Linked DNA regions of Homo sapiens. The protein of the gene in region 2 purifies or fractionates together with the protein of the main gene of each other region. This does not show direct contact. Each region holds a gene or a part of one and is shown on either strand. Other genes may lie near its edges.

Region 1 (3,650 bases), about 160 Mb from region 2:
GGGTGGGGAGAGGCATAGGTGAGGTCGAATGTACCACATCTAGGCATCACTGCTGCTTCCTGACAGACACGCAAACACATCAGAGAAAGACCTCTCAAGAGAGGCCAGGAATCTTCTGGAGATTTAGGCCTCAGAGGACAAGCCACGCAGGATGTCAAAACCCATACTTTTTTCCTTTTTTGAGAGGACTCTGAACCTTCCATCCAGACAGTCATACAGCAAAGGACCCAGGAAATGAGCCACGGTAGGAAGCAGGAGTTGAGCCTCCTTGGCCTTCCTGCCTTCCCCAGTTTTCCCCGTAGATCGAGCAGAAGGCTGGGGGATCAGTGAACCGCCACACCACCAATGGGTGCGTGCACTCCTCGGCTGGTGCCAGACTCTGGTGGGCCAGCACTGGCAGTTGTCGGCCCTTCCCCTCACTTGAAAATAATGGGAGTTGGCTTAGACCCAGGCTCTAACCAGAAGTCTCAGAGATTCTCCAGGGATGCAGCGGAGGCCAGAGGAGCAGAGGAGACCCCCGCATCAGACAGACTTGGTGCAATTTCCAGCTCTGCCCATTGTAGCTGTGGGCCCTGCAGCACATCCCTCCACCCCTCTGTGCCTCAACCTCCTCATCAACAAAGTCACAGCATGGCCCAGAAGAGTGAGAGAGAGACAGTTGCTATGTGCGGTGGCTGGCACACAATGGGGCTCTGGAAAAACGTGAGTTCTCCCCAGGGGAGCCTTTGGCCTCACCCCCTCCTGGCCATCTCTGAAATTCTGGCTTCCTTCTGGGAGATACAAGGAGACTCCAACAAACCCACTCTCCCTACCATAAAAAAACAGCTCAGATAAAACTTAACAACAACAAAGCAAACAACTCAATGCAAAAATGGGCAGAAGGCTTGTGTAGGCTTTTCTCCAAAGATGTATGAATGGTCAGTAAGCCATGAAAAGATGCTTAGCATCACTAATCATTAGGGAAATGCAAATCAAAACCACAATGAGATCCCATATCACACGCATTAGAATGGCTACTACTACCAAAAAACAAAACACACGTAGGTGAGGATGCGGAGAAGTTGGAACCCCGTGCACCGCTGGGGAAAGGTCGAGTGCTGCCGCTGCTGGAGAGGTGCTGTGCCCCCAAAAATTACAATTAGAAAAATGAGAATTAACATATGACTCAGCAATTCCATTCGTTACTCTGAACCCAAAAAACTGAAAGCAGGGTCTTGAAAACCACTTGCCCACCCATGTTCAAAGCAGCATTTTCCACAACAGCTAAAACATGGAAGCAACCCAAGTGTCTATCAGTACATGAATGAAAACAGCCAGAAAATTCTACCCTTAAAAGTGGCTAAAATGAGGTCAGGCACCGTGGCTCACACCTGTAATCCCAGCACTTTGGGAGGCTGAGGCAGGTGGATTACCTGAGGTCAGGAGTCCGAGACCAGCCTGGCCAACATGGCGAAACTCCGTCTCTACTAAAAATACAAAAATTAGCCGGGCGTGGTGGTGTGCACCTGTAATCCCAGCTACTCGGGAGGCTGAGACAGAGCGAGACTCTGTCCAAAAACACAAAAAACAAACAAACAAAAAAAGTGGTTAAAATGGTCAATTTTATGTGAGATGTTCTGTACCACAGTAGGAAAAAATGGGATAAAAAAACAATGCAGAGAGTGTGACTAGGGCTTAGTGTGAAGACACGCATCGCGCATGTTGTGTCCAAACGACAACGTGAACCTATCAGTGTGTCTTTACAGCAAAACAAAAAGCACAGAGACACACAAAAGTGGTGCTTATCCCCACCAGGACTGGAATCTTGAGCAGGGCCTGAATGAGCATCTTCCAGGGCCCACTCCTTATCTCCAGCTGTCCAGGAGCACAGGCACAGGGCTGGGGTCTGCAGAATACTGCAAGAAGTGAGGTGGGTGCTGAGGAGTGGGCTCCACCCAGGCCAGGTGCCCTGTGGATGGAAAGGAAAAGAGGCTACATCATTGTGGCTGAAGCTGAGTTGGGGGCAGGCATGGGACTTAACAGAGTGGGGCACTGTCACTCCCCAAGAGGGCAGACAGCTCTGATCACTCCAAACACCCAAAGGTGACTTCAAATCCTTCCCCATTCGCTTGACTTCACTGGACAGCTGGGAACCTGCATCTTTAGTGACTGAATATCCCCACTCTGGTTCCCCAAGGACAGACCCTGAATTGATTCCAGGAATCCACGTGTACAGGTAAGCACTACATTTCCTAGGCTGCCTTGCAGTTGAGATGGCCAGTGAGGTGTCAGCAGAAGTCACAGGCGGGGCTTCCAAGAAATACCCTCAAGAAGCGAACTCAGCTGGGGCTGGGAGGTGTGGGAGCTAGCTCCCTCTGGCTTTGTCGCTGGCTCTCTTCCCAGCTGGACTGTGGGATGATGTTAGGGCTCAGTCAGCCTTCTTGTCGTCCTGGGGATGGAGGCTATGCACCAAGGGCAGGGAGCAGAAATACCAAAGGAACCTGGATTCCCGGGGCTCTCTTGGGGCTGCAAGATGGTGGTGGATTGGCAACTGCAGATATTTGTGTTTATGTATTTTCCATGCAGAAACATCTACAATGGCACTGAGTCTGTAGCGAGGGCCATGCACTGTCTGTCTGAAAGTGCTCCAGGCACAGGCTTTGTGTCCAAGTACCTTGCTGTGTTTAAGGTACATCACAGCACCGGAGAATGTGGGAGAGGTCACATTCATCCCTTCAAAGCGCAGGGAGGTTCCTATTCTGACACCAGCAACACTTACAAGAATGAACCTAAAGCTGGGCAGTGAGGAAGGAAAGGAAAAAGAAAGTTTATGAATACAGGTAGTATTGTTTGAACCGGTAAGTTGCACTATAAATCACAATAAAAGATAGTCTGTATATCACTAAAACAGAAGAGTTGGCCGCCCTGAGGATGAGGCCTTTGGGTCTCCAGGCATTTGCCAGCTCTCCTAGCCTAGGGGCAGGGGCGCCTGCACAGCCCTCTGCTTTTCCTAGAATTCTCAGCAGCGAGCATGTGTCAGGGAGAGACATGGTTGTCTTAGCACTGAGGCTGAAATCCTGGATGTTCTTGGGAGGGCAGTGATTGTGAAGAACAAGTTACTTGTCTAGTTCCTGGGGGTCACTCCTCAAAGCCTCCCGATGAGGCAAGTTTACAGGATCCATGCTCCCTGAGCCAGCAGTGACACCCACACTTGGCAGTGAGAAGTGGGGCTGTAACTTACAGGGTGAGCCAAAATGGCGGGTCTGGAAAGGGATTATCTTAAAGGAAAAAGAGAGGAGAGTGAGTGACTTCATCATTAGCTGGGAGGCTCTACAGTGCCCTGGTGGACAGTCACTGCCTGGAGGTGACTTTGTAGAAAGCAAACTTTGGCTATCACAATGCATAGGGAGGCCTGGCAAAGCCCAGGGAAGCAGAAGGCCCAGCACTTTGAGAGGCTGAGGCAGGAGATCACTTGAGCCTAGGAATTTGAGACCAGCCCGGGCAACATAGTGAGATCCCATCTCTACCAAAGATTTTTAAAAATTAGCCAGGTGTGGTGGTGCATGCCTGTAATCCCAGCTACTCAGGGGGCTGAGATTAGAGGATTGCTCCACTCCAGACTGGGTGACAGAGTTAGGCTCTGTTTCAAGAAAAAAGAGAAAGTAAAAGAA
Region 2 (3,650 bases):
AGAGATATAGATCAATGGAACAGAACAGAGCCCTCAGAAATAACGCCGCTTATCTACAACTATCTGATCTTTGACAAACCTGAGAAAAACAAGCAATGGGGAAAGGGTTCCCTATTTAATAAATGGTGCTGGGAAAACTGGCTAGCCATATGTAGAAAGCTGAAACTGGATCCCTTCCTTACACCTTATACAAAAATTAATTCAAGATGGATTAAAGACTTAAATGTTAGACCTAAAACCATAAAAACCCTAGAAGAAAACCTAGGCATTACCATTCAGGACATAGGCATGGGCAAGGACTTCATGTCTAAAACACCAAAAGCAATGGCAACAAAAGCCAAAATTGACAAATGGGATCTAATTAAACTAAAGAGCTTCTGCACAGCAAAAGAAACTACCATCAGAGTGAACAGGCAACCTACAAAATGGGAGAAAATTTTCGCAACCTACTCATCTGACAAAGGGCTAATATCCAGAATCTACAATGAACTCAAACAAATTTACAAGAAAAAAAAAAACAACCCCATCAAAAAGTGGGCGAAGGACATGAACAGACACTTCTCAAAAGAAGACATTTATGCAGCCAAAAAACACATGAAAAAATGCTCACCATCACTGGCCATCAGAGAAATGCAAATCAAAACCACAAATCAAAACCACTTTTCATTAAAAAGTTAGGAAACAACAGGTGCTGGAGAGGATGTGGAGAAATAGGAACACTTTTACACTGTTGGTGGGACTGTAAACTAGTTCAACCATTGTGGAAGTCAGTGTGGCGATTCCTCAGGGATCTAGAACTAGAAATACCATTTGACCCAGCCATCCCATTACTGGGTATATACCCAAAGGACTATAAATCATGCTGCTATAAAGACACATGCACACGTATGTTTATTGTGGCACTATTCACAATAGCAAAGACTTGGAACCAACCCAAATGTTCAACAATGATAGACTGGATTAAGAAAATGTGGCACATGTACACCATGGAATACTATGCAGCCATAAAAAATGATGAGTTCATGTCCTTTGTAGGGACATGGATGAAATTGGAGATCATCATTCTCAGTAAACCGTCGCAAGGACAAAAAACCAAACACTGCATGTTCTCACTCATACGTGGGAATTGAACAATGAGAACACATGGACACAGGAAGGGAAACATCATACTCTGGGGACTGTTGTGGGGTGGGGGGAGGGGGGGAGGGATAGCATTAGGAGATATACCTAATGCTAAATGACGAGTTAATGGGTGCAGCACACCAGCATGGCACATGTATACATATGTAACTAACCTGCACATTGTGCACATGTACCTAAAACTTAAAGTATAATAATAATAAAATTAAAAAAAAATTTTTAAATTTGAGACAGAGTTTTGCTCTGTCGCCCACGCTGAAGTGCAGTGGCGTGATCTTGGCTCATTGCAACCTCTGCCTCCCAGGTTGAAGCGATTCTCATGCCTCTGTCTCCTGAGTAGCTGGGATTACAGGTGTGTGCCACCAAGCCTGGCTAATTTTTGTATTTTCAGTAGAGATGGGGTTTTGCCATGTTGGCCAGGCTGGTCTCAAATTCTTGACCTCAGGTGATCCACCTGCATCAGCCTCCCAAAGTGCTGGGATTACACGTATGAGCCACTGCATCCAGCAAAATTATTGTTCTTTTGTTAAAATGCTATATAAGCTCAAGTTCTAACAACTCCTTGGAGTTATTCATGGCTGGGTGCTCCCGTGTGTATGTGAGATGCACATGTTAATAAACTTCTGTTTTTCTCTTGTTAACCTGTCTTTGGCCAGTCTTGTTTATAGGGCCTCCACCGAAGAACTAAGATGGGCAGAGGGAAAAAAGAATTTTTCTTTTCTTTTTTTTTTTTTGAGATGGAGTCTCGTCCTGTCACGCAGGCTGGAGTGCAATGGTGCTATCTCAGCTCACTGCAACCTCCGCCTCCTGGGTTGAAATAATTCTCCTGCCTCAGCCTCCCGAGTAGCTAGGATTGCAGGTGTGTGCCATCATGCCCAGCTAATTTTTTTTTTGTTGTTGTTATTTTTAGTAGAGACAGGGTTTCACCATGTTGGCTAGGCTGGTCGCGAACTCCTGACCTCGTGATCTGCCCGCCTTGGCCTCTCAAAGTGCTGGGATTACAGGTGTGAGCCACTGCACCCGGCTGGGAAGAGAATTTTTCTTCCCTTGCACCGTCACTGAGCCTCCAGACACAAGAGAGACGATGGTGGCACGGAAGGAATTCCAGGACAATCCGCGTTCTCAGCTCTTGAACCCATAAACCCTTGTGGTTTTGGTTCCTGCCCTGAAGCTCCCTCCTCCCCGAAGGCTGCCCCAGGCATGGCTCCTACCCCCTGGGAATGGAGGTAGTCCATGGTCTTGGTGATGGTGCACAGGACGTCACTGGCTTCGCGCTCCGAGAAGTATCTCTGCCGGAGGATGCGGTCCAGGAGCTCCCCACCACGCATCAGCTCCATTACCAGGTACACAAACTTGCCATCATCATAGACCTGCGGAGTGGAGAAGGGGCGCACACGTCACCACGGCTGGTTGCTGTGAAAGAGCAACTACTCCAGAGGGGACAGGAGAGGGAAGTCAGAGGGGAGAGGCTGGGACCACAGGGTCCTATGGGAGTGCAAACAAGGCTTCTGCAGGGTAGAAGCAAATGGCCATTCCTGTCATACCATATGTGCTCTTTTTAGGAAGAAAACGGCTTTAATAATCTGCTGCTAAGCAGGGACTGAGTAAGGACATACAAGATGGGCGTGTCCTTAGCTGAGATGAATGGCTTCATGACTCTGCCAGGAGATATTTGTTATTTATTTATTATTATTATTTTTTGAGATGGAGTCTCGCTCTGTCACCCAGGCTGAAGTGCAGTGGCGCCATCTCAGCTCACTGCAACCTCCAGCTCCTCCTGGGTTCAAGCGATTCTCCTGCCTTAGCCTCCCGAGTAGCTGGGATTATAGGTGCACGTCACCATGCCCAGCTAATTTTTGTATTTTTAGTAGAGACAGGGTTTCACCATGTTGGCCAAGCTGGACTCAAACTCCTGGCCTCAAGTGATCCGCCTGCCTCAGCCTCCCAAAGTGCTGGGATTACAGGCGTGAGCCATAGTGCCTGGCCTGCCAGGAGATATTTAGACGTTAAGAAATGCAAATGTTGGCAAACCACCTTGCAAGAGCAGGGCCTCAAGGCAGTGCTTTTCAAACTGTAACGTGCATCCAATCCAATCTTGGGGATCTTGCTAAAATGCATGTTCTGGTCCTGCAGACTGAGGTGGGGCCTGGCCCTCCGCATTTCTAACCAGTTTCCCATGATGTCTGTGCTGCTACCGCATGGACAGCACTGAGTGGCCAGGCGCTGGGAGCACAGAGAGGCTAGGCAGAGTCCAGGGCGAAGTTACATATCAGAGCCGTGCTGTTGCTTCAGAGAAGCAATAGAAAAAGATAGTTTTCTCCATACTGGCTTTTATCTCATAAACTAAATAAAAACAATATGCTCTGATTATTCTTTTTATGTTTCGATTTTTTGAGATGGAGTCTCTCTCAGTTGCCCAGGCTGGAGTGCAATGGTGTAATCTCGGTTCAGTGCAACCTCCACCTCCCAGGTTCAAGCAATTCTCCTGCCTCAGCCTCCGGAGTAGCTGG
Region 3 (3,432 bases), on a different chromosome or scaffold from region 2:
CCCTAAGTAGAGAACCCAGTCAGGCCAGCCCAGACTTCCAGCCTACAGAACTGTGCATTAATCAATAGGAACTGATTAAGCCACTAAGCCTGTGATGATGTGTTATGCTGTAACAGAAACCAATATAAGCCCCACCTGGCCTCTAGTCATAATGTATAGACATTAAAAACACACCAGGTAATTATCCAAAAGGAGCAGAAGACAACTCACGCTTTCTGCATTTTCAATTCCTGGACATGTGATGCTAGAGAGCAGAGACTGATGTATTTCTTTTTTCTTTTTTTTTTTTTTTCTGAGACAGTGTCTCTCTCTGTCACCCAGGTTGGAGTGCAGTGGTGTGATCTCGGCTCACTGCCAGCTCCGCCTCCCGGGTTCACACCATTCTCCTGCCTCAGCCTCCTGAGTAGCTGGAACTACAGGCGCCCACCACGACGTCCGGCTAATGTTTTGTATTTTTAGTAGAGACGAGGTTTCACAATGTTAGCCAGGATGGTCTCGATCTCCTGACCTCGTGATCTGCCTGCCTCAGCCTCCCAAAGTGCTGGGATTACAGGCATGAGCCACCACGCCCGGCCAACTGATGTATTCCTATATCCTGGTCCTTAGCAGAGTGGGTAGTATAGAGCAGGTTCTCAATTTCATTTAACAAAGTTTCAACCTTCTGGGCAGTCAGAACTACATTGCTTACAGCTTTGGAGCTGCCCTGGCAGCCAGGTACAATTATCTGAGCAAAACCCAGCAAAGTCCTTTTTTTTTTTTTCCACCTAGAGGAAACTCCAGGCACAGGAAGTGGTTCAGACAAAGCCACCCAGCAACCAGGGTAGGTGTGTGTCCACATGCAAACGTGTCTTGCTTTGTACAACACAGCAAAGGACCATGTGCAGTGGCCCCTGCCTCAGCCCGCAGCAGCCTCCCACGGCTTAGCTAACCAGCCAAACCCTGGCATTTTGCTTGTAATTGTACCTCCCAGTAAAAAGTCCTGGTTGGAGTGGTAAAAATAGCAACTGCAACTTCCTGCAACACAGATATACCAGTTGATGCCTGAAAAGAAACCTGGTGATTCGACCTCACTCCAACTCAGCGAAATGCCTTCAAGCTGCGCTCACAATGGCAGTGGGACAGGAGCCCAGCAAAGGCAGCCGACCCACCCCCCCGCCCCAGGAGGACCCATGCAAAACCAGCTCTAGAGTGAGATGCTTCCCTTACTCTCTTAATGAAACACCCAACTCTCAGAATCAGGAGGTGTCTAATAAACGCAAAAACTGCTTTCAGCGAGGCCCCTCCCCTTTCCCTTCTCCTGCTCACTAGCTGCAGAGGTATAAAGGCAGAAGCCCTCCCTACCAAAGCCCTTTGAGGGTCCCATTGTCCCCTTGGTTACCCTCTCCCTTCCCCCTACCTACATCTGTCCCTGAGATTGTTCCAAGTAGGTCAGGCTGGCTGGGATCACAGGAGCCTCCTCTGAAGCTTGGTTCTGAGTCATCTCCAGGGCAGCAGGGGAGTCATGGCCAAACCTGGATGTTGCTTCCTGAAGGGTGGGGAGAGCCTGGCCAAAACGTCCCCAGGTACCCAGCAGTAATGAATTCCTCTGGGGCCCAGGCCATGGTCAGCAGTTCCCTGGCTCCTCTATCATGGGGCCCGATGCCTCCTGGGACCACACAGGCAAGTAAACAGGGTTTAGTCTGTGGTGGCCACTGCCCCTTTCTGGGCCTTTCTCTGGACCAGCTACGGAACTCTCTCTGTCCTCCTGGCTCATTTCTTTATTCCTGCAGACAGGTGACAGATCATTGACTAAGCCAGCCCTCTGAGAAGAGCTCTCAAGCCCAGCCAGATGGCTCTCAGCCAGGTAAGGCCCCGTGCATCTCTGGGACAATAGGCAGACACCTCCCACCTAAGGCCAGCTCCACTGCACAAGGGCAAAGTCACCCCAGCTCCTCCCCTGGATATGCTGGCTGTTTAGAAACACCTGAATTCACTCAAATGTTCCAGATATTTCCATTTCGCTAGTAAAAACCATGCCTCTTCATGTTTGCAGAGCTTTTCAGCATAAAATGAACTTTCAGGAATGTTTTCCCATGCAAAAAATACAGCAGCCTAGTGGGGGGCAGGGGCGGGCAGGGATTAAAGGGCTTCATTTCACAGATGAGTACCCAGCTGAGGTCAGGAGACCAATAAGAGGCAGAACCAGCACTCAATAAACTTTGATCTTCTGGAAAGACAAAAGTGGACTAGAATCAAAGGACAAAGCCTGAATAAACATTTTTTTTAATGGAACAATGAGATTCCACCCGCCCCCCCACCCCATCACATTAGCTAAAACTAAAAATGTGGATAACATCAAAAATTTGGGGGCTGGGCGCAGTGGCTCACGCCTGTAATCCCAGAACTTTGGGAGGCCGAGGCAGGTGGATCACCTGAGGTCAGGAGTTTGAGACCAGCCTGGCCAACATGGAGAAACCCAGTCTCTACTAAAAATACAAAATTAGCTGGGCGTGGTGGCGCTTGCCTGTAATCCCAGCTACTTGGGAGGCTGAGGCAGGAGAATCGCTTGAACCTGGGAGGCAGAGGTTGCTGTAACCTGAGATCATGCCATTGCACTCCAGCCTGGGTGACAAGAGCGAAACTCAGTCTCAAAAAAAAATTAGGTGAGTCTGTAGAGAAATGGGCATTCAGGCACTATTATTAGTGAAAGAGTAAACTGGGTAAATCTTTGCAAAGGGCATTTGGCTTTGACAATGAAAATTTAAAATAATCACACTTGCTCAGAAAGATGCATGATGAAGGACACACAAGATTTCATTGATCATACAGGGAAAATGAGGCATTACCTAAAGTCTCTCCTTAGGACACAATGAGAGGAAATGATGGTTTGGCTGCAGTGTGGAATATGACGACGCTGTGAAAAAGAGCTCCACCACACACTAAGTGGTATAAGTTGTAGAGTATTGAGTATGATTCAAATTATGTAAACACAAAATCTGCACATACAACGGAGGACTAGAAGGGTATGCACCCATCTGTGGACAGATACAAAGGAGGGGATGGACCCTCACACTGTGCTCCATCTTTTCCTATATTTTTCATTTATAAAGGAAATCCTAGCTGGGCGTGGTGGCTTGCGCCTGTAATCCCAGCTACTTGGGAGGCTGAGGCAGGAGAATTGCTTGAACCCGGGAAGCGGAGGTGAGCTGAGATCGCGCCACCGCACTGCGGCCTGGGCAATGAGAGGGAAACTAGATCTCAAAAAAAAAAAAAAAAAAAAAAGGAAATCCATTGATATATTATTTAAATCAGAGAAAAACAATAAAATGAAAGAGAACAATGTTATCCTCAGTCTCTCCCTGCACCAGAAGACTGCAGAATGTCAGGGTCTGGCACCTCTCTGTGCCTCATGATGTCTCTGTCCGCAGCCCACGCAGGCCCAGCCTTTGCACG

The links.
Region 1: the proteins of RPS6KA2 (region 2) and NQO2 fractionate together in Homo sapiens (co-fractionation; one large-scale study listed by BioGRID). This does not show direct contact.
Region 3: the proteins of RPS6KA2 (region 2) and KLHL25 purify together in Homo sapiens (affinity purification with mass spectrometry; one large-scale study listed by BioGRID and IntAct). This does not show direct contact.

The regions. Positions count from the first base shown.
Region 1 is NC_000006.12:3,002,793-3,006,442, reverse strand, and holds part of NQO2 (ribosyldihydronicotinamide dehydrogenase [quinone]), read right to left. Parts: intron 2,775-3,650; exon of another isoform or gene 2,654-2,774; intron 1,949-2,653; exon of another isoform or gene 1,792-1,948; intron 1-1,791. UniProt on the Homo sapiens protein: The enzyme apparently serves as a quinone reductase in connection with conjugation reactions of hydroquinones involved in detoxification pathways as well as in biosynthetic processes such as the vitamin K-dependent gamma-carboxylation of glutamate residues in prothrombin synthesis.
Region 2 is NC_000006.12:166,428,102-166,431,751, forward strand, and holds part of RPS6KA2 (ribosomal protein S6 kinase alpha-2), read right to left. Parts: intron 2,511-3,650; coding exon 2,352-2,510; intron 1-2,351. UniProt on the Homo sapiens protein: Serine/threonine-protein kinase that acts downstream of ERK (MAPK1/ERK2 and MAPK3/ERK1) signaling and mediates mitogenic and stress-induced activation of transcription factors, regulates translation, and mediates cellular proliferation, survival, and differentiation.
Region 3 is NC_000015.10:85,784,818-85,788,249, forward strand, and holds part of KLHL25 (kelch-like protein 25), read right to left. Parts: exon of another isoform or gene 1,401-3,432; intron 1-1,400. UniProt on the Homo sapiens protein: Substrate-specific adapter of a BCR (BTB-CUL3-RBX1) E3 ubiquitin ligase complex involved in various processes, such as translation homeostasis and lipid synthesis.